Linked DNA regions of Homo sapiens. The protein of the gene in region 3 interacts with the protein of the main gene of each other region in a pairwise test. Each region holds a gene or a part of one and is shown on either strand. Other genes may lie near its edges.

Region 1 (3,811 bases), on a different chromosome or scaffold from region 3:
CTGCACTCCAGTCTGGGCGAGAGAGTAAAACCCTGTCTCAAAAAAAAAAAGGTCCGCAGTCCAGCAGATCACAGTGCACTACAGTGTGGCAAACTGGGGGTGGGTAAAGGTTTCCCAAAGGAGGTGAGGCCTGTGCGACCAATGCAGGCACAAAGGAAAGGAAATGAATGCAAACTTGGACTGTGTGGGAAACTGCCAGAAATCCAGCATGTCAGGGGAACAGTGCAGAGGCCAAAGTGGTTAAGAGGCGAGGCGGGGACCATGCTGGAGGTGCAGGGAGCAACTGGATTATAGACAGCCTTGGAAGCTGTGGTTATGAGATTGGATTTTATCCTCAGGGCAACTGGGAGTCACTTTCAAGCAGGAGAGTGACAAGGCCAGGCACGGTGGCTCACGCCTGCTGTAATCCCAGCACCAGCCTTGTCAACACAGCATGACCTTGTCTCTACTAAAAACTTAAAAAGAAACAATTAGCTGGGTGTGGTGGCACATGTCTGTAGTTCCAGCTACTCAGGAGGCTGAAATGGGAGGATCACCTGGAGCTGGAAGTTAGGGGCTGCAGTGAGCCATGATCATGCCACGGGACTCCAGCCTGGACCATGGAGCAACACTCTGTCTCAAAAAAATAAATAAATAAATAAATAAATAAATAAATAAATAAATAAAATAAAAAAGCAGGAGAGTGATAAGATCATTTTGACTCTGGCTTCAAGATGGAGAATGGGTGTTGGGAGAGGATAGAGACGAGCTGGCAGTCCAGATGGCAAGCTTGGGAAGTAGCACTTGTGATGAGGGGGACAGGTAGAGAAGATGCTAAATTAGTACCTGCAGGCTGAGAGGATGTGACAGAGGAAGAGAGGGAGAGGAAGGGGATTGCTACTGCCTTCTTCCCCTCATCACCTTCATTTTGTCACCAACCCCTTTTCTCTGCCCCAGTGGCTTCCAGCTGGACAGTCCCTTCTAGGATCTCTGATGGGAGTTCACCCACAACCCTGCTCTTCCCCACCCTTTTGCCCCAGTCCTAAGAACTGCCCACTCTTTGTGCCCTGCAGACGGTGCCGGGCTGACCCCCCATCATGCCAGGCTGGCTCACCCTCCCCACACTCTGCCGCTTCCTTCTTTGGGCCTTCACCATCTTCCACAAAGCCCAAGGAGACCCAGGTAAGACCCCAGCCCAGGCCAGAATCTGGGGGAGGCTTGGGGAGACTGCAAGGGTGGGGAAAGGGGAAAGGGCAGTTGTTGCAGGTACCCAGGGACTGAAAGTCATTGCTGAGAAGGCAATGGAGGAGAGGGTTGGGGGGCTCTGGAGAAAGCATTTGGGGAGCAGGGTCTGATGGGCACTTGGGGCAGTGAGGATTGGGGGTTCCTGCCACTGTGGCCCCCTCTGCCCAGCATCCCACCCGGGCCCCCACTACCTCCTGCCCCCCATCCACGAGGTCATTCACTCTCATCGTGGGGCCACGGCCACGCTGCCCTGCGTCCTGGGCACCACGCCTCCCAGCTACAAGGTGCGCTGGAGCAAGGTGGAGCCTGGGGAGCTCCGGGAAACGCTGATCCTCATCACCAACGGACTGCACGCCCGGGGGTATGGGCCCCTGGGAGGGCGCGCCAGGATGCGGAGGGGGCATCGACTAGACGCCTCCCTGGTCATCGCGGGCGTGCGCCTGGAGGACGAGGGCCGGTACCGCTGCGAGCTCATCAACGGCATCGAGGACGAGAGCGTGGCGCTGACCTTGAGCTTGGAGGGTGAGGCCCTTCCGCTCCCGCCCCATTCCTGTGTAGCAGCGGGTCCGCCTCGCCTGGGTCTCCCAGGGCTCCTTCCCAGTATCTCCTCCGCACCCCTGGGGACCCCAGCTCCCTCTCCCAGGCCGCGCCGCCCTTCCTCCCCCTCCGCTCCCATCCGCTGGCCCTCCCCAGGATCCCCGCCACCCCCTAGGTGTGGTGTTTCCGTACCAACCCAGCCGGGGCCGGTACCAGTTCAATTACTACGAGGCGAAGCAGGCGTGCGAGGAGCAGGACGGACGCCTGGCCACCTACTCCCAGCTCTACCAGGGTGAGCGGCCGAACCCAGCACTTCCCAAGCCCCGCGGAGCTGTCTCAGGGGCCCGAGAGAGGGCGCCAGGCGAGCTCAGTCTGGCTCCTGCCTATGACGCCTCTTATCCCCGACCTCCGCCGTCTCCCGCCAGCTTGGACCGAGGGTCTGGACTGGTGTAACGCGGGCTGGCTGCTCGAGGGCTCCGTGCGCTACCCTGTGCTCACCGCACGCGCCCCGTGCGGCGGCCGAGGCCGGCCCGGGATCCGCAGCTACGGACCCCGCGACCGGATGCGCGACCGCTACGACGCCTTCTGCTTCACCTCCGCGCTGGCGGGTGAGGCGCGGGACGAAGGCAGGGTCTTGGGGAGGGGTCTGAAAAATGTGGGGGACGAGGAGTGGACCTCAGCTTGAGATCAGGGCAGGGTCTCCGGGTCCCTCCAAGGCACCGCCCCCCCATCAGCCCGCCCGCCCGCCCAGGCTCCAGCTCACCTCTCCAAACCCTCCCTGCACTTTTGCCTCGATCCCCCAACTCCTCTTACCCAAGCTCGATCCAGCACCTCTGCGGTCCCGCACCCCAACTCCGCCTCCTGGGTGTCAGCCGCCCCTCTCCGCCCACCCTGCCCTCGGTCGGTGACCCGCTGTGGTCCCCAGGCCAAGTGTTCTTCGTGCCCGGGCGGCTGACGCTGTCTGAAGCCCACGCGGCGTGCCGGCGACGCGGCGCCGTGGTGGCCAAGGTTGGGCACCTCTACGCCGCCTGGAAGTTTTCGGGGCTAGACCAGTGCGACGGCGGCTGGCTGGCTGACGGCAGTGTGCGCTTCCCAATCACCACGCCGAGGCCGCGCTGCGGGGGGCTCCCGGATCCCGGAGTGCGCAGTTTCGGCTTCCCCAGGCCCCAACAGGCAGCCTATGGGACCTACTGCTACGCCGAGAATTAGGCGCCCACCGTGTCCCCTCCAGCGCGCGCGAAGAAGCTTGGGAGTCGTGGCGGGGGTCTCTCGCCACCCCTTTCCGGAGAGCCTCCCCTCCCTCCAGACCCGGAGCGGCCTCTCCAGACCTGCCTTCCCAGCCGGGGGCTGCGGGCCTCGGACCCCGGCTGGCCCGGCGGCGGGGAGGGGAGGCGGGGGCGCCTCCGGCGGCGAGATGCAGAGGTGACCCTCGGACCCGCTGCCGTTCGCGAACCCTAGCAGAGGACTCAGCCACCGCCGGGGGGAGGGTGAGGCGGCCGGGGGCATTAACTGACCTCTGAGTACAGCAATAAAATAACCTGGGGATCTTTTGTGTTGGGTGGAGCTGTAAGAGCTGCGAGGCGTGGAGGGGTGTGTGTGTGTGTGTGTGCACGCTCATGTCGGGGCTGATGACCCGGGATCCTGCGTGCCCACTGAGCACCTAAGACAGGGTAAGGGGCAGGGCTGTTGCTGTTAAGGGATGGGTCAGCGGAAGAGCGGGAGTGCGGCCGGAGGGCACCAATAGGCCAAGGGAGAGAGAGAAGTGGAGACGTAGTGGGCGCCTGGCCCAGGACCCACGCAGAACCCAGCATGTTGTTGCGCCAGGCGCCACGCGGGGGCGCCGCACACTCACCTAAGATTAGTTCAAATCTGCCAGGGGCGCCCCATGCCACCAGGCCCACCCTATGTGCCCCAGATAACAAATATAAGACAACTTAAACATATTTCAAAATGTGCAGGCTGCAGACCTCCCTGAAGCGTTTGCGGGGACTACTGTTAAAGATAGGAAAGTCATATTGTTGCTAGAATTGACAGGAAATTAACCTTGCGT
Region 2 (8,783 bases), on a different chromosome or scaffold from region 3:
TGGGATGGGGGCTGTCAGGGAAGTGCCTCGGGGGCTCGTTCTGCAGACCCAGGAGGGATCAGGGCAGCTGCAGGAGGTGGCAGGAGCCGCCCCCGGGGCCTTCCCTTCACAGGCCCCGCAGACACCAGCCCAGGACCCGGAGGCCACCCACACCACCGCCGGCCGATGGGCGTCTTACCAGACATGGTTAGACCTGGCCCTCTGTCTAATACTGTCTGGTAAAACCGTCCATCCGCTGCCTGATCACCGTTAGAGGAGAGAGCTGCCTGCCCTGCAGCTCATCAGTGCAAAGCCGCCCGGTCTGGGGCTCTCATGCCCCCCTCACTATGGCCTGTGCCCATCCGCAGCCCATCAGTGCAAAGCCGCCGGGGTCTGGGGCTCTTGTGCCCCACCCTCGCCATGGCCTGTGCCCACCCGGCCTCCTGGGGCCCTCGAGCTGTAGTCCCCGGGCAGATGCTGTGGACCCCGTGCTATCAGCCTGGCCCCTGGGGTCACAGTCACAGATACCCGGAGCCCCACCCCACAGCCCCAGCCCCCTCGCCACCTGGGGAGGCTGAGACAGAAGCAGCTGGGCCCCCCAAAGTGCCTGAGCCCAGGGCACGGAGGAGCACAAATGCCCAGCAGGGACAATGTCACAGCGTCTCAGCGGCCAGGCAGCAGGACGCAGAGACCTCTGGGAGGTTCCCGGGGCCAGCCCTGGCCCTCCTCCTCCAGGGGCCAGCCGTGGGATGCAGACCACACTCTCCCTCCAGGGCCCATCTCTGGGGCTGAGGCGGGCGGGGCCGGTGCCCAGCTGCAAGACCATGGGATAGGGAAGGCAGGTGCTTGGGGCCACGCAGCCCTGCACTGGGGGCCCCTCCACCCCAGGCGGCTCACGAGGTGTCATCTGGAGCTGTCCCCAAGCCGGGATCTGCAGGTTGACCTCCCCCACCCGGGGCTATCTCCAGACCCTCTTTCCTCCCTGGGGAGATGGGGCAGTCCCCCGCAGGGCCAGCTGAAACCACCCCCATGCTGCTGCCGCCTGAGCGACGTGTGTGGGGAAGAACTTGGAGTGCCACCCCCAGAATGTGGCGTCCACCTCACCAGACCGCACGGGTGAGCCCTGGACTGCAAGGTGCATATAACACAAGGTTTGGACACACCTGGAGAGCTCGGGCCAGGCAGGGCCACACCTGTGAGCCTGAGCTCATCCAACACCGCCCGGAGCTCGGGGACCTTCCCCATCCCAGCACCTCCTCACCGCTGTGCCCGTCTGGCCAGTCCCTCCAAGCACCCCTCGGATGAAGTTGCGCCCCACACTGCAGTGGGGCTCACTCTCCACAGCGCCTGCTGCGTTGCACGGGGTGTGACAGGAAGGACCCTGCTGGGGCTGGCGGGGCCGTACCCAGAGCCTCCCTGTGCGGTTTCTCCTCCTCCTCCTCCTCTCCATAAGCACCGGGAACAAAACAGAAAAAAGTCTTTGTATAGTAATAAAGTCTGCAGTTCACGCACCCATGCTTGGACCAGCTCCTTATTTTAACCACACGTGCACAGACCCCCGCCGTGCAAAGGGCCCAGCTGAGGACAGAACCCCAGACACTGCATCCGGCCCCGGAGGCCCCCAAGGTTCCTGGGAGAGGCTCCCTCCCTCCCTTCCCTCCTCTTTCCCTCCCCCTCCTCCTTCCTCTCCTCCATCCCTCCTTCCCCCTCCTCCCTCCTCCTCCTCTCTCCGTCCCTCCCTCCCTCCTTCTTTTGCTCAGGAATCTTCCCTGACTCTCCTGTGGTCAGCTCAGGTCAAGGTTCTGGGGGAAGGGGGAGTCCCTGAGTGGAGACACCTCAGCCTGTGCTGAAGGGAGCTACCGAGGGGGCAGCCGGTGGCCCTGGGGGGCCTCTCTGAGCAGGTGACCAAGAGCGTATGGTGCCGGCCAGCAGGAGCGAGGGCTGCGGACAGGATGGAGGCAGCCAGGCGCCAGCCAGGAGGGCTTCCTGGTCCAGCCACACCTGCCCCGGTGACAGCCACAGGTTGGTGGCAAAGGGGCCACCTCCCTTCCAGTGGCAGGGCCTGGCCTGCCTGGAGACCCCACCCACTGCCCGAGAGGTGCCAGGCCTCCCCCATTCTGCCTGGCCCTGGGGGCTGCACCCACCTGGACACGCGGGCCGGGCACACCCACGGCCCAAGGTCCTGCTCCCACCTGCCCTGCGCAGGAACCTTGCTGGGGCTACAGGTATCCGTGGCTGCCACACCACCCAGATTTTGGGATTAAGGGGCAGAGTTTTCAAGTTTGAACTCAGGAAAGCTGTGAGGGACGAGGTAGTGCCTGGCTGGGGAGCCTGGGGGCTTCTGAGGGCGGTGGGGAGTCCTCAGGCCTGTGTGGGGCCCCAGGGAGGGGAGGCTGCAGGGGTTGGGGGACCTGCCCGCTGCACCCCCTCTCCCCCCACACAAGGAAACCCGTCCTCCGAGGTGTGTGTCCAGATCACATCCTCCAAAGGCCGGTGCGCCACAAAGATGAACACGGGGCTCTCCCTCCCAGCCCAGGGGCAAGGACCCTGCCTTGCTCTGTTCCCGGAAGGGCCAGTTCTGGAGAGGAGCTGGGCGAGTCCTTCCCATCCCCATCAGCTCCTGTCAGGCCACCTGCCTCAGCCTCAGGGAGGAGGGGACACACGTAGGCCCCTTCCCAGAGTCAGAGCTTCCGAACCCGGATCTGCTGCTCCCAGCCTGGAGAGCCACAGCAGCCACCGAAGGAACCCCCCACCCGTCACCCCCACCAAGTGGGCCCTGCTCCCCGAAGGCCCAGCCACTCAGCCCAGGACCTGCCCCAGCCCCACCTGCCACCTGACCTGAGGCTCCCAGAGGGCAGAGGGGCCTCCTGGGTCTGCTCCGCACCAGGGTCCAGCGGGACCATCTCAAAGCTTGAGCACCAGGCGCAAGGTGGGAGTGCGGGGAGGGGACGAGGACACTGTTCCCAGCTGGACAGAACCAGGAGGACGGTGGGAGACGCCCCCCACCGCCCCGCTTCCGAGAGCTCTCTCTTCCTTCCAGGGACTCCCCAGGGACAGCCGGGGCCCCTTCTTCCCCCACAGCTCAGGCCCCAGGGACACAGAGCGGGGAACCCCCAGGCTGCCGCCCCGGCGTGGGTCGGGGAGGCGGCTCCGGAGCGGGCACCACACTCTCGAAAGGGTGGCTTCTCCTCCCGGCTGCTGAAAAACCACACAGGCAGGCACAACAACAGACGCTTACGCCCGCATCTGGAGGCCAGAACTCCAAAGCCACAGGGCAGGCAGGGCTGCACCCCTCTGGGGGCTCCAGGAGAGGACCCTGTCTGCCTCCCCAGCCCCTGCCAGCTCAGGCATCAGTGGCTGTGGCCGTGTCACCCATCTCTGCCCCCCAGTCCCACGGCGTCTCCCCCACGTCTGCGTCTCCTCTCTCCACCTCCCTCTCAGGGGGGCAGAGGCCATTGATTCAGGGCCTGCCCTGGGTGATGTCACTAGAGATCCTGACGTAACCCCACCTGCAAAGCCCCTTCTTCTAAATAAGGTCACATTCGAGGTTTCAGGGCTATGATGTGGTTGTCTTTTGGGGGCACCACCAGCCCCCTGCAAGGGGACCCTAAGCACAGAGGCCCTCGTGACCCACGCAAAGCTCTGAAGGACACGGATGGGTAGGGGACACGTGGCTGGAGGCTCAGAGTTTGAGGCAGAGGGGATCAGACCGTGCCATGGGTCATGCCAGGAGCCCAGGACTCCCAGACCTCGTATCATTAGGTGTTTTAAAGAGAAGGCGAGGGCAGGCCAGGCGCAGTGACTCACGCCTGTAATCCCAGCACTTTGGGAGGCCGAGGCGGGCGGATCACCTGAGGTCAGGAGTTCAAGAGCAGCCTGGCCAACATGATGAAACCCTCTAAAATTAATAATAAATTAATAATAAAATAATTATAATAATATAGAAAATAATATATAAAATAATAAATATATAAAATATAAAACAAAATAAAAATAAAAAATAAAATTAATATTAAAAATACAAAAATTAGCTGGGCACTGTGGTGGGCACCTGTAATCCCAGCTACTCGGGAGGCTGAGGCAGGAGAATTGCTTGATCCTGGGAGGCGGAGGTTGCAGTGAGCCGAGACCGTACCATTGCACTCCAGCCTGGGCAAAAGAGTGAGACTCCGTATTTTGAAAAAAAAAAAAGAGAGAATGTGAGGGTTAAACAAAGACACACAGAGATGGAGAAAGGGCAGCCTTACATCAACACGGGTACATTGCAAACACCTGCAGAGGTGGGGGACCAGCTGGATGCCAGAGCCCACTGCCGCCTACGGGCTGGGGTGCCTATAGGTATGGGTGGGAGCGGCCCGGGCCACACGGCTTCAGGATGAGGCCGTTTGTTTGGCCCTTGTTCCCGCAGAAGGTAATCGTGATGTTCCTCGGTGTTTTTCCCCGCAGAGTGTTCAAGTCAGGTGTCGGGCAGGCTGTTCCTCACGGCCCAAACCCCTGCGGAATGCTTCACTTTGGCCGAGGTCTGTGACACAGCGAGGGGCTTACAGAAAGGTGCAGTTTGGACCGATAGATGTGAGTCCCCCTCTGGGGGGCACTCACTTTGTGGAGCCCCCGGTTCCTGTTTGCAGAGGGGGGCACAGTGGCACCTCGTCCGCTGTGGAGTGAGAACAGGGACCCGACCACGTGAAGCACAGAGAATGCTCAGGGATCGGCAGCCGTGTATCCAGCCAACATCACCAGGGTGCACGCAGAGCCTGGCCCGGGCCAGGTCCTGGGGTGCTGAGCATGGGTGGGGCCTGAGAGACGGCTCAGGGACCATCCTGGGAGGGCCGGGCGGAGGGGCAGCAACTGGGGCTCAGGCTCAGGCAGTCCCAGCAGTGACTGGGAGGCAGCTGTGCCCATGAAGCTGTGCCCTTCTCCAGCCTCAGCCCTCAGCCCGGCTTCCCGGGCTGGCCCCGCCACTCAGCAGCCCCTCCCCATCCTCCGAAAACCCAAGCTCACCTCTGGGTTCCGGCTGGGTGGGGGTTGCCAGGAGACGGTTGCCAGGTCACCACTGTTGTTTCCTGGCCCAGGCTCCCAGGACCTTGTGGGCTGGGCAGGTAAGAAGCGCCGGCGGCCACCAGCTGGGGTCCAGTGGGCTCGGCCCCGCCCTCCTACGCCCTGCCTGCGGGTCCCCTCGGGAGGCTGCTCAGGAGAGGAGGAGGCTGGGGAGGGGACTGGACAGGGATCGGGTAGGGTGGGGCCAGGCTGAGCCTGCTCTGCGGGTCCCGGACCCCAGCGCCACCGTGCGAGAGGCTCGGGTCCAGGCCAGGCCGGGGAACGGTGTGTGTACCCGGTGGGGTGGGAGGGCTGGGCAGCCCTGGGACGAGCTCCGTGGCCTGGGACCAGGTCTGCCTCCGCAGAGCAAGTCCTGGACGGACGGCTGCTTGAGCCCACAGGTCGTGCGTCCTTTGACAGCGGCCTCCGGCCGGGAGGCACCAGCTCTTCGAACAATGTCAGTACCTTCCTAGGGCCCCACGTGGCCAAGCTTGGATTCTGGGGGGAGAACTCGCAGCAGGACACTAACATGTGGTCGCTTTTTGGATGATTTCTTCAGGTTTAAAAGTCTCTTCTGTTCATCCTACCGGGGTGCCGTCTCCTGCCGGTCTTTTCATCTCACCAGGTAAAACGCTTATTTTACAATTTATTGTAAGGTCGTGCACCAAGTTTCCACGCCGCCTTTACACCGTGTCCCCACCGAGGGGCGTCACAACCGTCCTCCACACCGGGCGTCACCGGCTTCCCAAGTCCCACCGCTATAAAGGACACGTCAGTCAGCATCTCGGAGTGAGACGCTTTCCTTCTGGATTCAGAATCGCGTCCGTCAGAGACTCCAAAGCACATTTGCTAGATCGACAGGCGTGAGGAGCCAGCGGCTCCCGGCGCTTGGGAGGCTGCGTCCCACCTGCATTCAGGCCCCGGGTTCACCACACACACAGCGGGCAGCTGCTTAAGAAACCTTTGATTTCAGTCCGGGGCGGTGGCTCACGCCTGTAATCCCAGCACTTTGGGAGGCCGAGGTGGGCGGATCACGAGGTCAGGAGTTTGAGACCAGCCTGGTCAACATGGAGAAACCCTGTCTCTACTAAAAATACAAAAATTAGCCGGGCATGGCAGCAGGCGCCTGTAATCCCAGCTACTCAGGAGGCTGAGGCGGGAGAATTGTTTGAACCTGGGAGGCGGAGGTTACAGTGAGCCGCGATTGCGCCATTGCACTCCAGCCTGGGCGACAGAGTGAGACTTCGTCTAAAAAAATTAAAAAAAAAAACACCTTTAATTTCAATGACAAGAAATAACAGCTCACAACTTATTTAGTTATTTGTGAACATCATAAGGACATAAAGTTAGAAAAGCCCAAAGGAGGCCTCAGGCTTACGATGAAATCAGCACCTGGCTGCCTCTTCCAGCTGCTGCTTCTTCTGCAGCAGAAGAGACGGAGGCAGTTTCCTGGGTGGGGGGGTGGGTGCTGTGCTTCCGCTTTCTAACTGCCTGTTTCCAAAAAGCACCTGATGCTGCTGCTTCTGGAGCTTCCAGTGCAGAAATTCCCCGTGGACGGTGAAAGGGGCTTGTCTTCCACACGCTGCCCTGTCCATATCATCCCGGCACGAATGATGTTTGGGGCAGAGCTGCCCGGCCTCCCCGGGTGGTGCCCATTTGTTTTCCTCAGAGTTGGCGATCGCCTTGCTTTTCACATGTGCTTGTGTTCCCGCCTATCCTGAGCTGTCCCTGAGCTCTCTGCCTCCCGTCACCCCCACAGTCACCATCACCACAGCCCTGCAGACTGCGCAGTGTGTGGCGGGTGCTGTCCTGACATTACATGTGGAAACTCCATCTTTGCAGCAACCCTGCGAGGCTGCTGCTCCCAGCTGCTGTGCAGGTGGAGAGAGGCTGCTGTTGTGCAGGTGGAGAGGCTGCTGCTCCCAGCCGCTGTGCAGGTGGAGAGAGGCTGCCACCGTGCAGGTGGAGAGAGGCTGCCGCTGTGCCGGTGGAGAGGCTGCTGCCGTGCAGGTGGAGAGAGGCTGCCGCTGTGCCGGTGGAGAGGCTGCTGCTCCCAGCCGCTGTGCAGGTGGAGAGAGGCTGACGCTGTGCAGGTGGAAAGAGGCTGACGCTGTGCAGGTGGAGAGGCTGCTGCTCCCAGCCACTGTGCAGGTGGAGAGAGGCTGACGCTGTGCAGGTGGAGAGGCTGACGCTGTGCAGGTGGAGAGAGGCTGCCGCTGTGCAGGTGGAGAGACTGCTGCTCCCAGCCGCTGTGCAGGTGGAGAGAGGCTGACGCTGTGCAGGTGGAGAGAGGCTGACGCTGTGCAGGTGGAGAGAGGCTGCCGCTGTGCCGGTGGAGAGGCTGCTGCTCCCAGCCGCTGTGCAGGTGGAGAGAGGCTGACGCTGTGCAGGTGGAGAGAGGCTGACGCTGTGCAGGTGGAGAGGCTGCTGCTCCCAGCCGCTGTGCAGGTGGAGAGAGGCTGACACTGTGCAGGTGGAGAGAGGCTGACGCTGTGCAGCTGGAGAGAGGCTGACGCTGTACAGCTGGAGAGGCTGGGGCACACAGTCATCAGGTCAGCTGCAAGCTCACAGCTGCTGCATCTTTTCCCTGACAGCTCACTCCTGTGAGAGTCTTCCAGGCTTCCCGGAGGGACGGATGTCTCCTCACCTTTTCCCACCTCCACACCTTTTCCCACCTCCACACCTGGTAGGCCAGGTATGGAATTCCTGGAATTCCCGGCTGGGAGCCTCCTGGGCCGGTTCCAGCCCTGTGTGTCCCCAGGAAGGCTGGAGGGCTGCTAGTGGCCTCGGTGGGCACCCAGGGCTGGCCAGGACCACACCTCCTTCCTCCGGCTCTGTGCCTGTATCTCCCCGGGCCTCCCCTCTCGCCTGGGGCTCCACGGTGACCCTGCTGTGCGGCACCTCGGATTTACACCCACAGTCCCATCCCCAGGGTTCCCTTCTGGGCAGTTTCCTTGACTTAAATCCCAACCCCGGTGTTGCATTTTTAATTCCCACCGGCTCTTTTGTATTCTCTGTGCCTTTGCTTTAAAAGCACGCGGCTCTCTGAGGGGTCCTGTCTCCATCACCCCAGCCTTTTCCAGGCTGGTTTGTTTCCCTGTTTCTCCCCTTTTCTCTTCCTCTGTGTGCGTCTGTGTGTCTGTGTGTCTACATGTCTGCGTGTCTGTGTGTGTCAGCGTCTGTGTGTGTGGGTGTCTGTGTGTGTGTGTGGGTGTCTGTGTGTGTGTCTGTGTGTACGTGTGTGTGTAGACGTGTCTGTGTGTAGGTGTCTGTAGGTGTGTCTGTGCATGTTTATAGGTGTGTGTGTGCATGTCTGTAGGTGTGTCTGTGCATCCATGTGTCTGTGTGTGTAGGTGTGTCTGTGCATCTGTGCAAGTGTCGACATGTCTGTGTGTGTCTGTGTGTAGCTGTGTGTCTGTGCGTGTGTGTGTGTAAATGTGTCTGTGTGTCATTCTTTTTTTTTTTGAGACGGAGTCTCGCTCTGTCGCCCAGGCTGGAGTGCAGTGGCACGATCTCAGCTCACTGCAAGCTCCACCTCCCAGGTTCAAGCTATTCTCCTGCCTCAGCCCCTCAAGGAGCTGGGACTACAGGCGCCCAACACCATGCCCGGCTAATTTTTTGCATTTTTAGTAGAGACAAGGTTTCATCATATTAGCCAGGATGGTCTCAATCTCCTGACCTCATGATCTGCCCGCCTCAGCCTCCCACAGTGCTGGGATTACAGGCGTGAGCCTCCGCGCCCGGCTGTCCTTGTGTCACTCTTCTTC
Region 3 (9,507 bases):
GGGTCATGAGAGTGGATCCCTTATGAATGGCTTGGTGCCATTCTTGGGGTAATGAGTGGGTTCTTGTTCTATTAGCTTCCTCGAGATCTGATTGTTAAAAACAGACTGCCACCTCCCTCCCCTCACTCTTGCTCCCTTTCTTGCCGCATCTGCTCCCTCTTTGCTTTCTGCTATGACTGGAAGCTTCCTGAGGGGTCACCAGATGCAGATGTCAGCACCATACTTCTTGTACAGCCTGCAGAACTGTGACCCAAATAAACCTCTTTTCTTTATAAATTATCCAGCCTCAGGTATTCCTTTATAGCAACACAAAATAGACTAAGACAATAAGTTACTAACACAACACTCTCCAAGCATTTGTTTCTGTTTCTGTTTTTTGAGACAGGGTCTCACTCTGTTGCCGAGGCTGGAATGCAGTGGTGTAAACACGGCTCACTGTAGTAGCCTTGATCTCTCCTGGGCTCAAGCAATCCTCCCACCTCGACCTCCTGAGTACCTGGGACCACAGGCACATGCCACCATGCCTGGCTAGTTTTTTAAATTTTGTGTAGAGACGCAGTCTCCTTACGTTGTTCAGCCTGGTCTCAAACTCCTGGGCTCAAGCAATCCTCCCGCCACAGCCTCTCACAGTGCTGAATTACACACTTGAATCACCACACCCAGCCTTTCCTAACATTTGAACTTTAACCCATCATTTGAGAAAAAAGAAAAAAGGAGGAAGCACACCTATCAAGGATTTTGTTCTGGAGAACCTGTGAGGATTAGAGAACGTAAAAAAGTTAGAGTTGGCCAGGCGTGGTGACTCATGCCTGTAATCCCAGCACTTTGGGAAGCCAAGGCGGGTAGATCACTGAGGTCAGGAATTCGAAACCAGCCTGGCCAACATGGCCAAACCCCGTCTCTACCAAAAATACAAAAATTATCTGGGTGTGGTGGCACGTGCCTGTAATCCCAGCTACTTGGGAGGCTGAGGCAGGAGAATCGCTTAAACCTGGGAGACGGAAGTTGCAGTGAGCCACGATTGCACCACTGCACTCTAACCTGAGTAACAGAGCAAGACTCTGTCTCAAAAAAAAAAAAAAAAAAAGTTAGAGTTCCTAATACCTCCCAGTTACTGCTGCGGAGTGTGTGTTAAGGGGCTACAACCATTTCCCCCTTGGCCTAAACATCTTCATCAATTCGAATGGGGGCCATACGCCACAGTGCTGTCCTGTAACTCTATCAGCAGTGCTCCTGCTGTGGGAAGATCTCCTGAGTCTTCTGGGAAGTGCTGAAGGCACCAGGGGTGCCAGAGAGCCAGGAGGGCAAAATGCTGCTTCACCCCTGTGCCCAGGAGCCCCAGAGACCTGAGACTGCTGACTTCTCCATGCCTGACTTTTCCTTTCTAAAATGTGGGGACTGTGGGGGAGGGCCAGGTGCAGTGGCTTACACCTGTAAACCCAGCACTTTGGGAGGCCAAAGCGGGAGGATCACTTGAGCCCAGGAGTTTGAGACCAGCAACATAGTGCGACCCTGTCTCTACAAAAAGGAAAAATAAAAAAATTAGCTGGGCGTGTGGCACTCGCCTGTAGTCCCAACTACTTGGGAGGCTGAGGAGGGAGGACTGCTTGAGCCGAGTGGGTCAAGGCTACAGTGAGTTGCGTTTGCACCATTGCATTCCAGCCTGGGTGACAGTGTGAGACTCTGTCTGAAAACAAAAACAAAAATAAAAAAACCAGCTGGGGGCAACCTTCCTCCCCACTGGGATATTTAGAGGAAACAGGGAATGTAAAAAGACACTGCCCAGGAAAAAGCATCTCTATGGTCTACAGAATGACTGCTATGCTGAAGTTAGGCTATCTTCAGATGACTCTTCCTCCCAGTGTGACCTGCAGTGTTACCTTCAAATAAAAACATGGCAAGAAACACCCTTGATATACAATAGGGCCATGGATGGAAATATCTGGATACGGTAGAAATAGAAGAACCTTGTATTTTCTCACATAAAGGGGGTCACAGGACAAGCTGGAAAAGAAGCCAGACTTTGAGGTGGAAGACTCCCACTGGAATTGCTGGATCATTTAACTAAATACCCAACCTTGGCTATGCGCCCCAAGCTCTCTAAATCTGTTTCCTAACCTGGAAAGCAGTGCTGATAAGGCACGCATCTCACAGTGGGGCTGTGAGTAGGAAATGATGTAATTCAGTTGGAAGCGCTTTTTTCAAATGCTTTATTCAAATGCAAAGCACATCTGCCGCTAAGTCCAAAATGCCCCCTCCGGTTCTCTCAGCCCCTCCACTCCTATATTCTTCTTCCCCAGTCTGTTTCTCATCCGGAGACGCCTTTCCACCTATCAAGATGGGCTGATCTTCAAATTGCGACTGATTGTCCAGCAGATGTAACTATATTCACCAAACTATCTCTCACAATTGGACTGTGGGGGTGGTTGGTAACCGCATTTAATCCTGGGCTGACAATGGGACTGGATCCCTGGTTACACGGCCCTACGCGGTGGCCCTGCGGTAAACGGCCTCTCAGCCCAAACCCACCCTGGTTACTGAGCATGCCCAGAACTCCCTCCCGGGCCACCAAAGGAGGGGCACCATTTCTGCAGGATTTTGCCACTGTGGAAAGAGAGGCGGAGCTGTCATCGCGCAGAGGCAGGGACTGATACGCGGAAAGGACGTGGAGATGGGAATAAGCAATGAAGGACCAGCATTGACCGTGTTAGGCACACAAATCTAATTGCCCCCTGGTTACTTACCAACCCGGTGGCCGTGGCTCAGCTACTGCACACACACACCAAGTTCCTACACACCTTTCCCCTGCTTGGCCCCACACAATTCATGGCACTCACAGCCCACATCCTACCTCCTACTCCGCACCAGATGCGCACCCGCACTTACTCCCCAAACACGTGGCATCTGGTAACCCGGGAAACGCTGCGACTGTGGCGCAGTGCGCAACAGGGGCGGGGGAACCAGGCGGGGCTCTGGGGCGCAGGGGAAAGCTGGAGATTTGGGAAGGGGGTTTCAGTTTGTTTTTTCTCTCTTTTTTTTTTTTTTTTTTTTTTTTTGGTGGAGGAAGCAGAATAAACCAAATCGCGACACGTTCCTGCGCCCTTCTTGGCGCAGTGGCGCAGACACGGTCCATGGCGCCTTGCGCAATAGAGTCGGTCTGCACCCCGTCTTTAAGTCGTGGCCCTGGGCTGGAATTCCCGACTGCACTCTTTGCTACACCCCCATAGACCGCAGACCTGCGTCTCTCTCTATATTCCTCTCCCATCTGCTACGCCCCTCTGAATTTCTTCCCGCCATGTTGTGTGCCCCCCCCCCACTCCCCCGTCACCCCAACCACACCAAAGTGGATGCACGAAGCGGGAACCTTCTCGTTTCAGTCTCTGCTCCCTGCAGCCTGCCAAGGCGAGTGGACAAACTGAAGCTGGGGTGTCCAGCGTCTTGGCTGCCCCCCTCCTGTCCACCCTGCCTGTGCTATCCTTGCTCATCTTCAGTGCCATCCCGCTTCCCACACCCTGAGTAGCCTGGCGCCCGGCTTGTCCCCTTTTCCCATCCATCAGCTCACACCCAGGGTAACGGGGCGGGACCCCTATCCACAGTGCGCCCTCGCCCCCGGCCCACCTCCGCCATGCGGCGGGGCAGAGGCGCCTGGGCCAGGCAGGTGGAGGAGAGGGGCACTGGGGCTGGGGGCTGCGTCCTCCGGTCCTCACTCCGCGTGCCCTGCCCGATACTTACCCAGGCGCGGAGAGCGGTCAGCGGGCCCTCCGCTCCGCATCCATTAGCTGGTGGTCTGGCCGCTTCACTTCCGGAGCGCGGGGCTAGGGGCGGTGCCGCCCTCCCCTCTCTCTCTCCTTCCCTCCCCTCCAGCCCTCCCCTGAGCACCGCTCCCCTCCCCGGCGCCGCGCCCCGCCCGCGCCTCCCTCCTCCCAGCGCTGCCGGGAACTGGCAGCCTTTCGGCTCCCGCAGCCGCAGCGGACGCCCTCCCAGATCCAACTTTGCCGCTTCCCCGAGCTCGCGCTGTAGCCGCGGGGGGCGTGGGCAGGGAGGGGAGAAGCGGGGTCAGGGGGAGGGACCGGGAGGGTGGGTCGCCGGCTCGCCAGCCCTCCTTCCTTTCTGTGCACCTTGCGGTGGGCGGCGAACGGCAGCCGCGGCAGCAGCTAGGGGGCTTGTGCACACAGCGAGGGAGACTTAGGGACTGGCAGACGGACGGACGGACGGCGAGGACCCTACCCGAGCCCCCGAGCCATGGCCGAGAGAAAGCAATCCGGGAAGGCGGCAGAGGACGAAGAGGTCCCTGCTTTTTTTAAAAACCTGGGCTCCGGCAGCCCCAAGCCCCGGCAGAAATTCTGTGGCATGTTCTGCCCGGTGGAAGGGTCCTCGGAGAACAAGACCATCGACTTCGACTCGCTGTCGGTGGGCCGGGGCTCGGGGCAGGTGGTGGCTCAGCAGCGGGACGTCGCCCACTTGGGCCCGGACCCGCAGCCGCCGTACTCGCGGCAGGGCCGGCGCGCCGGCGGAGAGCCATCTGTTGAATCGGGCCGGAAGGTGGAGATCCGGAGGGCCTCGGGCAAAGAAGCCCTGCAGAACATCAACGACCAGGTCGGTGTGGGGGTTGGGGGTGGAGACGGAGGACGGGGCGCGGGGATCGCCCCTCCCTCGCCCCTGAGCCCGGCGCGCCCGCCTTCATGCCCCGCCCTGGACCTCGCCTCCCGCATCTGCACGCGCACCCCGCCCTACCCGCCCCTTCTCCGCGCAGGGTGCGGCGAGGCTCGGGCTGGGCGGTGGGCGGCCGTGCGCCCACAAAGGCTGCCCGCGTCTCCTTGAGCTTGAGAGGTGGGGCGTGGGCATAGGGAATGGGCTGATCCCCTGCTGGGGCGGGCGGTGGTCGTCTGGGAGGGGGTTGGCCGCGGTTCCATTCTTCTGAAACCCTCCCGGGCGGCTTCCGATTGCAGCTGCGGCTGGGTGCCCCACCCTTTTTTTGAGCGGCTCAGAGCGTGCGGTGGAGGCTTTGCGTGAAGGCCCGCGGCTCCCCGGTGGTCGGGAGGGGCGGGGGTTCGGACGGCCGCTCCCTACAGCCTCCGCCCGCGCCTTCTGCGCTCACGTCCCGAGCTCCGAGGCCAGGACCATGGTCAGCGCCCCCCGGACCCCCTCCGAGCACCGCACCGCCCTTGACTCCTGCTCGCAGCGTGAGAAGAGCCAGGAAGGCTGTGGAGTCACCCGAGGAAACCGAGACGCTCCTAAATAGCCTATGTGGGGAACAAAGTTCCAATAAGTGTCTCAGCCGGGGCTTCACAGAGCGCTCCCCAAACCGCTATGTGGGAGGCGCTTTAGGAAGCGGGGAACTAAGTGGATTATGTTCAAAGGGTCAAAAAGACAAGAAAAGGGGGAAAACCCCTCGCACTCGAAATAGACTGTCGAAGAAGACTAAACCCCCTTTTATTGTGTTAATGGGGGAAACAAAGGCCAATTTGGTCACGCTTGATTTTAGAAAATGTTTGTCACTTTCTGACAAATATGAACAGTGAGCATTTTCAGCGCAGTAATAATCTCACACCACAATTCTTTCTTTATCTGAGTGATCCTTACACTAGTGTAATTCTTTTCCACAGCCTTAATTTCTTAACTGATAATTTACAATGCAAAATGTTTTAACACGTTTTCCGTTTCTCTCCCATGCCTGCTGGTAAAAATAATAAGTCAATCAATGAATGATTGTTGATTGAATACCTATTGTGCGCCTTGCCTTGTAGGGCAGAGGGAAGGTTAGTTATAGAAAGTGCAAGAGGTTTCTTCTTCTCAGAGGGCTTCCAGAGTAGTTGGGAGTGGTCTATACATATTCAGCGAGGGATTCCACAAGCATTTACATTTGTGTACTTACAGTGACAGCCTTTGAGAACAATTCAGAATTGGTGATGATGGTTGGGGCATGATTTGACTGTTTGCTGATGTGACATAGAGTTTTGCAGCTTTTGACTTTTGTAGGGTCAAGTCTAGGAAAAACAAGGCATTTGCTGTCATTTGTAAAAGGTGACACAACTAATAATTTATATCCAACCCCAGCCCTGCCCTCTAATTTATTCATATAAGGGAGTGTCTCATATCCATATTTCACTATGAGTCAACCAGAAGAAACTAAATCCAAAAAACTTGCTTTGTTCCAAGTGATCAGACAATTGAAGTAAAAGTTTCTAATAATGTAACTTATACTGAAAGCTGAGTGAGTGTGTGTGAAACACTTCCCTGTGTGAGTACATTGAGTGAGGGCCAAAATCATATAGCATCTTGGTTGAGTGAGTAGCCTCATGCATGGCGAGTTGTGCTGGTGATTGTGATGTCCTAGAGAAAGCAGAAAAACAACTGGAGAATAAAGAAGAAATCATGTAAAAAGTGGCAGATCAGAGGATAGGGGTTGAAAGTGGCCCACCCCTATCATGAATTAGAACTCAAGTTTGAAAGGCATAGTTTTATCGGGTTGAATAACACTTCTTTTTTCTTGGCCATTTAGAAGCTTAGATATATGAAATTCTAAATTGTAAAACTAAGGCACGCAGAGGGGGAGATTTGAAGAGAAAATACTCAAACAAACTGCAAGGGAGTTTTAGATTGCAATTCACATTGATTTCAGTTGCCCAGTTATTAGTAACAGAGGGCGATTCTAGCTTGGCCTTTCTGCAGCACCTTCCCCTGAATTTTCATGTTTAATCTTGCCTTATCATATAAGGCCTACTCAATGAGATTTTGTCATTCACGACTAAGAGCATTTACCTGGATCAGTACTTGCAATGTTTCAATATTTCATGTCTTTAGAAAAGGGGAAAGGCTGTGGCTATACATGTGTTTATATTTATAACAATGTGACTTCCGAAAAGCTCAACTGGCCCACCATTTTGACTGAGTTGACTTGTCATTAGTTGGTTTTCAACGAATGAGTTGGGTGAGTGCCAGCATCTCTGTGCATTCTAATTGGAAGCCCTGACGCAGAGAAAGGTGGGGGAGATTGAGAATGGGTGGATCCTGGGACCCTGACTCACACCATCCCTCCTCTCTTGCAGCTTTATTTATGTGTTACTAATGTATGGTCAGATGTGGCTTTGCTCATCTGTTGCACTAAGAGGCCTGCTGTTCCCCTAACAAGGCTTTGGGAAGGGAGAGAATAGGCTTCCTTGACCCACATGCCACATGGCTCATGGAAGATGAGAGATGTTGGACATGTGCATTTGCAGGAACTAAATGAAATTATATTCAGAGTATGAGCCAGACAGCACCAGAAAGCGATGGGTGTGGCTTGACTCGGCATGTCAGATTTTGGCGGAGGAAAAGAGCTGGCATAGTGGTTGTGAATGAGGAAAGCCTCTATCTTGTTACTCTCTTTTTCCTATAAGTCCACTTTGGGCTTCAGTGAGGTTACATTGATCACCACTGTGAAAGACTCTGAGCCTCTTGGAAGAGAGAGAAGAAAGGCATCTCTGTTGGCCCAATCCCCCCTTGTCAGTGCCCAGGGGTCCTTCAGCCTCTTCCCTTCCTCCTAGGAACTTCCTCCATTCCACTCCAGACACAGCGTAGCCAGAACCAGTGGCTCCACCAGCAATACTGGACCATAAGAATGCTTTTCAAAGGGGCCTCTAGGCCCTTTTCCCAGCAGCAAACAACCTATGCAGGCTGGAGTGACAGGGAGTGATTCTCCTCCTCTCCAGGGCAGGTGCCGCTGAATGAACTGCACAGTGCTGCTGAGCTTGGCAATGTTACTGAGTCTGTGAAGTGCTTTCTGGTGCTCCCTTCCATCTGGGTCCCCATCCCTTCTGCCTGTGTTGAATCTCTTCTGGCCCTGGGAGCCCAGTGCTGTGCTGCCCTCTAACTGTACAACGTCATCCCTACTCCATCCCCATAGCATGCCCCTTCTAGACCTTTCTTCTTCCAAAGGGCAACAGGTTCTAAAATCAGTCTTGGCTTCCCTTCTCCCATTCAGAATTCTTAACTTGCATTAATCTTAGTTAAAGAGAAATTCCAATGATTAAAGCCATCTGCTCCTCAGGCAAACAACTGATGCCCAAGTTGTCCCCAGAGATCCGTGTCTGATAATAGACTAGCCTGTTAAACAAAACGAATGTGTGGTTAGTGGGGTGTGTGGTGGAGATTTGGAATAAAGGCAATACCTTGATACTTTACAGGTCATATTGGTTCAAAACAGGAGATACAAGCATTTGTGTGTTCAGGATTCCAAAAAACCTAAGACCCACCCGGGTTCAAAAGGAGGAAAGTGGGGGTGGGGGATAATTGGAGAGGGGAAGGAAAGGATGAAAATCCATAATTATTATTTGCTCTTGATTTCCCAGCTGGTTATTGAACTAATCATATAATTAGTTAAATTAAAATAATTTTTACATAGCCTAAAATTTGCCACCTTACCCATTTTTAAGTGCAGCTCAGTGGTGTTAAGTGTATTCACATTGTTATGCAACCAATCTCCAGAACTTTTTCATCCCCCAAAGCTGAAGTTCTGTACCCATTAAACACCAACTTCTCATTCCACCTCTTCCCAGCCCCTGGCAACCACCATTCTCTTTTCTGTCTCTGCCAGCTTGACTACTCTAGACTCCTCATATAAGTGAAATGACACCGTTTATGTTCTTTGCGACTGGCTTACTTTACTTAGCATAATGCCCTTAAGGTTCATCTGTGTTGTAACATGTGACAGAATTTCCTTCCTTTTTATGGCTGAATAATATTTCTATAATTAGTTAAATTATAACAAGTCTTTAATGATTTAAAAAGTTGCTATTCAATTAATTGGCCTGCAATAATTAATTGTGGCAGGAAATAAGAAGGATTAGATTTGGGATGAAATAGGCTTCCCCAGGTCTGGGGCCTATAACCTAACTAGAAGAAAACTCCTACCAGCTAACCAGCATCTACCATCTTTCTCCTTGGAGCTCAAGGATAGAGAGGAGAATTGCTGTCATTGGACCGCCAGTGACAACTTCTGGCCATGACCTTTGCATATTGCATATGCAATGTTATGTGGTTCACAAACTCATGGCTCTATACCATGGAAATCAGGGTGAGGCTGGGGAGTTTTTCCAGCCTGGTAAAGACAGGCCACGTATTCCAGGGTCCTTTGATGCAAGCATCCCTCTTTACTTTCTTGAGCAAGAAGGGGAAGTCAGAATTGATTATAGATTCAAATGTGTACTATCATTGAATGTCAGAGCTTGCAAGAGACCTAATGATTGTTTAATTACCTCATTCTAGAAGTGAAGAAAGTGATGTCCTGAAAACTACTTCATTCCTTGGAGCCCAGGTGATAGTCCCAGGACTGGGAGAGAGGTCTCTTGTTTTCAGTCCCACTGCAGTCCTCTATCAGTAAAGCCATGTGATTTATGTAGCATTATATAACTCTAGAATGTGCTTTTAAATTCTAGATTCTACATTTTAGAATGTTTAGAGTATATTATTCTATTAATAAAACCTTGCCCCAACACTGTCTGATACAGGCATTATTTACTTTTTGTA
Region 4 (8,580 bases), on a different chromosome or scaffold from region 3:
AGCAAAGCCTCAGCCCTTGTTCTTGCTGCTCATTGATGACAGTGATGACAATGATGGTGACTGAGTTGTGTGGCTGAGCATTTGGACCCCAAGTTTTATCTCCAACTGGCAGGTGGGGAGCCGGGATTTGAATTTGGCTCTGTCTGACCCCATTCTCCCAGGATGCAAGAAATGGGGCCTGGGGAGGATCGCTTGAGCCCAGGAGTTCAAGACTAGTCTGGACAACATAGTGAGACCCCTGTCTCTACAAAAAAAAAAAAAAACAAAATTCTTTTTAAATCAGCTGGCATGGTGGTGCGCACCTGTAGTCTTGGGAGGCTGAGGTGGGAAGATGGACTGAGGCTGGGAGGTCGAGACTGCAGTTAGCCGTGATCGTATCACTGTACTTCATCCTGGGTGATAGAGCGAGACCCCTGTCTCAGAAAAAAAAAGAAATGGGGCCTAAAAGAAAGCCAGACAGCTGAGCATGCAAGAACCGGGTCTCTGTAGATGAGTAGGTGAATGTGCTGGGCATGAGGCTCAAAAAGATGGTCCTTTAACAGGAACGACTGCACACATGTGTGCCCCCACAGAGTGCTGGGTGGAAGGACAAAGTTCCAGAAACTCAGGTTGGAAGTGTCAATGAAGGCACCATTGTGGGGTCCAGTGCTCAGGCAAAGAGACCCAGCCCAGGAATGGTGCTCCCAGCCACAGGGAAAGTCCCGGAAGTGAGGCCAGAGTGGCAGCCCCCCGAGAGCTTGCTTGGCTCCTGTGGTTGGCCGGGGTGTGGTGGGTCCGCTCAGCAGCCGAGCAGAAAGGAGGCTGGATGGGAGGGGGTTACCAAAGGCCTGAACCCACATCCTGGCTCTGCCTCTGATCATCAGGATGACCCTGGGCAAATTGTTCTCCAAGCTTTCCCCTCCTCATTTGTGGGATGAGGCCAACATCCTCCTGGGGTTATGATGGTCTCGGAGGCTGAGCTCCTGTGACTCAATGTCACTGTGACTGGTTTGTAGGAAAATACAACAAATGGGACAAAGTGGACCCCGCAGAACTGTTCAGCCAAGCTCCCACGGAGAAGAAAGAAGCTAACCCCAAGCTGAACATGGTGAAGTTCCTGCAGGTGCGTGGGGCTGGCCTGGGCATGAGCACACCGGGGCTCCCCACCCTCCACAGCTGCCATGTCTTTGCCCACCCTTGCTTGAGTCCTAATCCCCCTTGGACAGGGGGGCCTTTGCTAGCTTTTTCTGTGAGTGCCCCCTGCTGGCCCACGAGGCACCTGCAGGCACCCCCAACACACAAGGCAGTTGCCATTGCCAACCCTCAGTCCTGGAGAGCAGGCCTTCTGCTTTTAAAATAGCTTGTTTGGTCGGGGGGTTTTTCTCCTTAATTTTAAAACAAATGCATACAGATTATGGAAAATTAGAAAGTGCAGATAAGTAGAAAGACAGAAAAATTATGCATAATCATATTACCCAAGACGACTGCTGTTATCATTTAGGGTTATTTCATTTTAACCCTTCTTCTGGGCAGTTTTGGGGTATAAGATCATGTTGCATTTATACTTTTTTTTTTGGTCCAAAAAACATCAATTATAAACTCAATTCTTTTCTGTTGGCTGAGCCAGCCTCAACACAGCCAGCTCCTTACCCAGCCCAGGTACCAGTCCTCCTAACTGAGGTTCAGGGCCTGGGACCAAGCCCTGTCCTGGATGGGAGCACTGGGGGCGGGTGGCACAGACCGGGTCTGCAGCAGGTACGTGTGAACCTGTGCTGTGTGGCAGGTGGAGGGCAGAGGCTGCGACTACATCGTGCTGTGGCTGGACTGCGACAAGGAGGGGGAGAACATCTGCTTTGAGGTGAGTGTGAGGCTCACTTTGTTCCTCACTTTTGGCCTTTCTGACACCAGCCCCAAACTGACACCAGCAGTCAGTCACATCACTCCTGGGGCCAAAGGAGGGAGTAAACTGTACCGGTTTAAAAACACCTCTCCCCTCCCTTTATTCTGAAACTCCACAGATACTTTTAACTGCATAGGCTCTATTAAAGGTGGTCAGTTGTTCCTCCGCTTGCTGAGGCCTCAACGGTATGAGTGAACATAGGAGGGGCCAAATTGTCTGGGTGGATGCAGGTTTCAGAATGGGATTGTCTTGGGGCAGCTTGGTGTTCAGCATCTTGTGCCCAGCGTGACTTCTCAGGGACCTTGGGTTGATGCTGGTTGATTCCCGACCTCAGCACTGAGCTCCTTTTGCAGGCCTCGCTCTGCTCATCTCCTGCCTCATCCAGGATGCCTCCTGCCTCCAGCCAACCCTGGGAGCCCTGCAGAGAAGCAGGTGGCAGCTGCTCCCTGTGCACACCCCATGCCCCATGCTTGCCCCGGCCATGGTGCCCTCACAGTGGCCATGACTGCTGGTCTCACTTGGTGCCCTTCAGACTGTTGTTCTATGGGTCGCCCCCGTGCTCCTGTACCCCCAGCTCTCACCCGTGGCTCAAGAGCTGGTCAGTGAGACAGAGCTGAGGCACCTGGCGTTGCAGTACAGCACCCTCAGCAAATGCGATCACACTCTGTCTCTTCCCAGATACCCTCTCCTCCCCTGCAGGGCGGCTCCTCCCTGGGGGCCTTTGCATCTGGGAATGGAGAATGGGGGCAGCTCATGGGGCTTTCTCCCTTCAGAAATGAAGCCACTTATTCCCAGTAAGGAAGCTGCGTGGCCAGGCTCCGGCGGCGACCCTAGTCCCACTGCACGGCCTTCCTAGTGAGTCTCGGCTCCAGGACCCCTGCTGTGCTTTAGCCCGAGCTGCCCCCACCACAAGCTAGGACCACCCGTGGCCTTCCTGCTCTTGCCCATTTCCTTTCCCCTTCATTCTTTTTTCCTTCCCTGTCTTTTCTTCAGCCTCTTAAAATTTCCACCCACCCCTCCAAACCCTCCCTCCTAGAAGGCAGGGAATCGTGTCACATGGGATGGGTTTGGGGACTAAGAGGTCCCTCATGTACTTGGCAGTAGCATTTCCTGATTTGGTGGGGATGAAAGCAGAGGATTAGAAGAGAGGGCGGGAGTAAGAAGGGAGTGTTCGAGTATGTTTCTAGATGGGAGTAAAGGAAGCCATGTGGTGGGGTGTTGTGGAGTGCTCAGGGCTTCTGGAAAGGCAGGGGGATAGAGGAGGGTCTGGCAGGTGCAGGAAAGGGGATAGAGGAGGGTCTGGCAGGGGCAGGAGAGGGAGCCGAGCACACGTGTTCTTTCCTGGAAGGAACCAGGCTTCACAGTGGGGTGGGGAGCTGTGGCAGGGATCTGGGAGGTGGGTCACAGCTGGCCACTCCCCACCCCCAGGTTCTTGATGCTGTTCTGCCCGTCATGAACAAGGCCCATGGTGGCGAGAAGACCGTGTTCCGGGCCAGGTTTAGCTCCATCACGGACACAGACATCTGTAATGCCATGGCCTGCCTAGGCGAGCCTGACCACAACGAGGCGCTCTCAGTGGATGCTCGCCAGGAGCTGGACCTGCGAATCGGCTGTGCATTCACCAGGTGCTGGCCACACCCGCAGAGTCCTGGGCACACCCTCACTCTCCCTCAGCCAGAGACCTGCCTCTACTGGTCCCCCTCCGGGGCCCCTAGGCCTCCTCGAGCCAGGATGAGCAACAGGGGATTTCACCAACCCTGAAGAAGGCCAGGCACAGTGGCTAACACCTGTAATCCCTGCACTTTGGGAGACCAGGATAGGAGGATTGCTTGAGGTTGGCAGTTTGAGACCAGCCTGGGCAGCATAACAAGACCCCATCTCTACAAAAAAAAAAAAAAAAAAAATTATTTTTTTGAGACAGAGTCTTGTTCTGTTGCCTAGGCTGGAATGCAGTGGTACAATCTCAGCTCACTGCAACCTCTGCCTCCCAGGCTCAAGAGATCCTCCTACCTGAGCCTTCCACTACAGGTGCTACAGGTGTGCACCACTATGCCTGGCTAATTTTTATGCATTTTGTAGAGACAGGGTTTTACTGTATTGCCCAGGCTGGTCTCAAACTCCTGAGCTCAAGCAATCTGCCCACCTTGGCTTCCCAAAGTGCTGGGATTACACATGTGAGCCACTGCGCCCAGGCTAAACAAAAATTTATTTATTTTTTTGTTTGTTTGTTTTTTGAGACAGAGTCTTACTCTGTCATCCAGGCTGGAGTGCAGTGGCACAATCTCAGCTCACTGCAACCTCTGCCTCCTGGGTTCAAGTGATTCTCATGCCTCAGCCTCCCAACTAGCTGGGATTACAGGCTCCTGCCACCACTCCCGGCTAATTTTTATACTTTTAGTAGAGACGGGGTTTCACCATGTTGGCCAGGCTGGTCTCGAACTCCTGACCTCAGGTGATCCGCCCACCTCAGCTTCCCAAAATGCTGGGATTACAGGTATGAGCCACTGTGCCTGTCCAAACATTTTGTTTTAATTAGCTGGGTGTGGTGGTGTGAGCCTGTAGTCCCAGTTACTTGGGAGGCTGAGGTGGGAGGATCACTTGAGCCCAGGAGTTCAAGGCTGCAATGATCTGTGAATCCCCATTAATGCACTCCTGCTGGGCAATACAGCAAGACCCTGTCTCTACAAAAACAAAAGAGACCTAAAGAAAATTGTTTATTTAGCTGACAGAGATCACATATGCCCTGCTTGATAAAGTGTGTTTGTCTGTGCTCTGGGGGTCCTGAGGAGAGTGTGCAGTAGATGGAATAGAATAGAAGGCTCCCTGGCCTGAGACAGTAGAAACCTCTGTCTCCTCTCTCACTGGCTCTGTCACCCATGTACACACATGAATCCTCCCTAAGGCTATGCCCACTCTGCTCCCACTGGCTTCTAAGTGGGGACACCACCTGATGCCACCTCCTTCATGCACCACCCCTGGCCTTGGGCTGGACTCACATGGGTGGCCATAATAGTGTCTTGAGTGAATCAGTGACCAAAATATCTTTCCACTCCCTCCAGGTTTCAGACTAAATATTTCCAGGGGAAATACGGTGATTTAGACAGCTCTCTCATCTCCTTTGGGCCGTGTCAGACTCCAACCCTGGGATTCTGTGTGGAGAGACATGATAAAATCCAGTCCTTCAAACCAGAGACCTACTGGGTGCTGCAGGCCAAGGTTCCTTGCCTTTCTCTATTCATGCTGGGGCTTTCTGGGTTTGGGGCATGGATTCTGAGAGTCTTCCATCATCATCAGCCGGCAGGCCCCGGGCTGAGGGCAGAAGTGTGGACGGCTGTACCTGGAAGTGGTCTGTGGTGCCTAGGGCTGAGGGACCCCAGCCTTCATGGGGGCAGTGGGAAGAGACTGGGCCTGTATATGCTGAATCTGGATAAGTGGGAATGAGTTCAGCTCTGGCAGTGCAGGGTGAGGTCACCCCACAGGAATCAGTGGCTTCAGTGGTCAGGTCCAAGCACTGGACTGAGACCATTGGCTTTCAAACTTTTTAAAATTCCTAGAACCCTTTCTTCAAATAAAAGCCTCCACAGAAGCTCACTGTAAGACTTAATACAGCTAGGCACAGTGACTGATGTCTGTAATCCCAACAACCTGGGAGGCTGAGGCAAGAGGATTGCTTGAGGCCAGGAGTCCAAGGCTACAGTGAGCTACGATCGTGCCACTGCACTCCAGCCTAGCAACACAGTGAGACACTGTCTTGGAGCTGCTGTGGCTGACACGGGGCTTGGGACCCTGGCGGTGGCCATACCTACCACTGGCCAGGCACTGGGGATAGGCAGGGGTGGTGTGAGAAGTAGGGGCTCAGGTGCTTCTTAGGGACACATCAGCCTCAGCTTTGGGCCACCTTCCTGAGACTGGCTGCCTGGTTTTGGGGCAAGTGGTGGAGAGGGCCAGATGTCAGCTTGCGTATCTGCCCACCTGAACAGGTACAGCTGTGAGCCATTACAGCCAGGGCTATTTGGCTCCCAGACAAGGACCAGCTTCATCTGTCCTGGTTCTTCCTGGCGTTGGGCTCACCTGGAGACTTTTTCTTGTGCGTTCACCCTTTATCCTTTTTCCTGCAGGTTAACACTGACAAAGACAGATCTCTCCTTTTGGACTGGGACCGAGTAAGAGTGTTTGACCGGGAGATCGCACAGATGTTTTTAAACATGACAAAGCTGGAGAAGGAAGCCCAGGTGTGCCTGCTCCACCCACATCTATCACAGTTGCCTTGGGTGAGGGTGGCCCTTGGATGCCTCCCGCTGGAGGAACAGCCTGTGATCCTAGTCCACGTCTTTCTCCCCCTTTCTGAAACACAGACATCTTTTTGGAAAGCTGAATGGTTACTCCCTCATATACTCCTAAGATATTTCTGCCCAGTGCAATAGTCACAGTGTACTGCATGCCCGCTCCATACCAGGCACTGTCCACACCTGTGACCTTGTCGGACCCCTTCCACTCTCCCCTTTCCACGTGACCCGCTAGGCATTACCTCCGTGTGGCAGGACTCCATTTCACACAGAGATTCAAACTAACAACTGTAGAGGGACCTTGGTGCACACTGATGAACTTGCCCAAGGTCACAGCTAGCAGGGGAAAGTCTTGAGATTCCAATTGCAATCAGCTTGCGTGCTTTTATGGGATTATGTTTCTTACTCAGGGCTTCTATGAATTGAAAGGACATGCTGCTTGGCTGTTAGGAAAACGGTGAGGTGACCTGGCTGCATGGGTTGGGGACACATCTGTGGCTATTGAAGTAAACATGCTACAGGCATGACAGCTACCAGATCCGTCGAGACACAGCCTGGCCTCCTTAGCCGCCTTCTCCTTGTCCTTCTCTGGCCTTCCTTGAGTGCCCTGTTGCCCGCCATGCTATCGTCTCAGGCATCTGAAACTTCTAAAGCTGCTCCAGGCTGTCAGCATTGATCACATTCCTGCAGAGACACTGTTGCCACCTCCAGGCCTCACGCTGGGGAGCCCAGCTTCACATAACAACTGGCCTCTGTTAGCACCCACATCTGTCTGTCTGGAATGCAGAAGGCACTGCCCTGACCAGCCTACGTGGGATTGGCAAGGGCCAGGGCCTGGGGTTGAGTTGTTTGGATTGTTTTTGCCATAGGCAAAACAAAGAGTTGTCTCTTCCGACAAGTGTTCAGCAGAGGTAGAGAGTGGCAGGACCCCAACAAAGCACAGCTCATAGATGCACTCCACTAACCTGCATGGTGTTTACACAAATTCCAGAATAGTTACCAGCACTTAAAAATTACGAGATTTCATACTAAAATTCTGCCTTCTAGCTTCTCTTGAAAAATCAGAAGAGGTAGCAATACTAGCAGGTGCAGGCAGCAGCCCTCCCCACAACAAGGAGTGGTACTTCCCCTGGGACGGGCCCCACTTGCCATCCCTGTAGCTTGGCTGATGCTGGCTTCTGTAGGATTTCCATCTGCAGCCCTTCTGACTCCTCCTCAATCTTCCAGGTTTTCTCTTTCCCTAGAAAATTCTCCAGAAAAGAATATTCAATCACTTGAGGCCAGGAGTTTGAGACCAGCCTGGACAACACAGGGAGACCCTGTCTCTGAAAAAAATAATTTAAAAAGTAGACGGGCATGGTGGCACGTGCCTGTAATCCTAGCACTTTGAGAAGCTGAGGCGAGAGGATTACTTGAGGCCAGGAGTTCATTTAAGACTAGCCTGGGCAACATAGCAAGACCCTGTCTGTACAAGAAATTGAAAAAAAAAATTGGTCAGACATGATGGTGTGTGCCTGTGGTTTCAGCTACACAGGAGGCTGAGGCAGGAGGATCACTTGTCCCAGGAGTTCAGGGCTACAGTAAGCTCTGATGGTGCCACTGCACTCCAGCCTGGGCGACAGAGCAGGACCCTGTCTCTTAAAAAAAACAAAATTTGGTTTTTTGTTTGTTTGTTTGTTTGTTTTGAGATGGAGTCTTGCTCTGTCACCCAGGCTGGATTACAATGGCGTGGTCTCAGCTCACTGCAACCTTCACCTCCCAGGTTCAAGCAATTCTGCCTCAGCGTCACGAGTAGCTTGGATTACAGGCACGTTCCACCATGCCCAGCTAATGTTTGTATTTTTAGTAGAGACGGGGTTTCACCATCTTGGTCAAGCTGGTCTCGAACTCCTGACCTCAGGTGATCCACCCGCCTCAGCCTCCCAAAGTACTGGGATTACAGGCGTGAGCCACCACACCCAGCCAAAATTTTTTTTTAAAAAAGAATTTTCATTCTTTTTCCTTTCCTGGTCCTGAATAAATATTCAATCAAGTCTTTAGACTGTTGGGAAGAATGAATTGGAGAAACAGGGAGACCAGATGAATGAAACCAGACCCTTCGTCCACACATCTTGATTCCCTCTATGGTGGTGTCTTCCTCCTTCCCCAAATCATTGACTGTCCTGTCTTCCAGGTGGAGGCCACAAGCAGGAAAGAAAAGGCCAAGCAGAGGCCCCTGGCCCTGAACACTGTGGAGATGCTGCGTGTGGCCAGCTCTTCTCTGGGTATGTAGGGACATTTCTCTCAAGTCACCAGAAGGCTTCCTGAGGCAGGTTCAGCCTGGAGCAGCGAGTGCCCAGGGTTGCAGGATGGTGCCCAAGGCTTCAAGGGGATCTGAGCCTCAGGAGGATTTCACTTATCCTTAGGTTGTAAAGG

What was found.
Region 1: the proteins of PNMA2 (region 3) and HAPLN2 interact in binary tests that used the Homo sapiens proteins (3 or more experiments, as listed by UniProt).
Region 2: the proteins of PNMA2 (region 3) and TTLL10 interact in binary tests that used the Homo sapiens proteins (3 or more experiments, as listed by UniProt).
Region 4: the proteins of PNMA2 (region 3) and TOP3B interact in binary tests that used the Homo sapiens proteins (3 or more experiments, as listed by UniProt).

Annotation. Positions count from the first base shown.
Region 1 is NC_000001.11:156,622,415-156,626,225, forward strand, and holds the end of HAPLN2 (hyaluronan and proteoglycan link protein 2 precursor), read left to right. Parts: intron 1-1,052; coding exon of another isoform or gene 1,053-1,076; coding exon 1,077-1,161; intron 1,162-1,392; coding exon 1,393-1,746; coding exon of another isoform or gene 1,747-1,750; exon of another isoform or gene 1,751-1,883; intron 1,884-1,936; coding exon 1,937-2,053; intron 2,054-2,186; coding exon 2,187-2,369; intron 2,370-2,686; coding exon 2,687-2,970; 3' UTR 2,971-3,311; downstream 3,312-3,811. UniProt on the Homo sapiens protein: Mediates a firm binding of versican V2 to hyaluronic acid. May play a pivotal role in the formation of the hyaluronan-associated matrix in the central nervous system (CNS) which facilitates neuronal conduction and general structural stabilization.
Region 2 is NC_000001.11:1,168,849-1,177,631, forward strand, and holds the start of TTLL10 (inactive polyglycylase TTLL10), read left to right. Parts: upstream 1-5,031; 5' UTR 5,032-5,078; exon of another isoform or gene 5,079-5,436; 5' UTR 5,437-5,471; coding exon of another isoform or gene 5,472-5,473; exon of another isoform or gene 5,474-5,575; coding exon of another isoform or gene 5,576-5,641; exon of another isoform or gene 5,642-7,568; intron 7,569-8,783. UniProt on the Homo sapiens protein: Inactive polyglycylase.
Region 3 is NC_000008.11:26,510,084-26,519,590, forward strand, and holds the start of PNMA2 (paraneoplastic antigen Ma2), read right to left. Parts: upstream 3,790-9,507; 5' UTR 3,733-3,789; exon of another isoform or gene 2,745-3,732; intron 1-2,744. Other genes in the region: DPYSL2 (dihydropyrimidinase-related protein 2), read left to right, coding at 4,243-4,596.
Region 4 is NC_000022.11:21,965,134-21,973,713, reverse strand, and holds part of TOP3B (DNA topoisomerase 3-beta-1), read left to right. Parts: intron 1-995; coding exon 996-1,102; intron 1,103-1,762; coding exon 1,763-1,837; intron 1,838-2,652; exon of another isoform or gene 2,653-2,734; intron 2,735-3,307; coding exon 3,308-3,504; intron 3,505-4,938; coding exon 4,939-5,095; intron 5,096-5,997; coding exon 5,998-6,111; intron 6,112-8,338; coding exon 8,339-8,429; intron 8,430-8,580. UniProt on the Homo sapiens protein: Releases the supercoiling and torsional tension of DNA introduced during the DNA replication and transcription by transiently cleaving and rejoining one strand of the DNA duplex.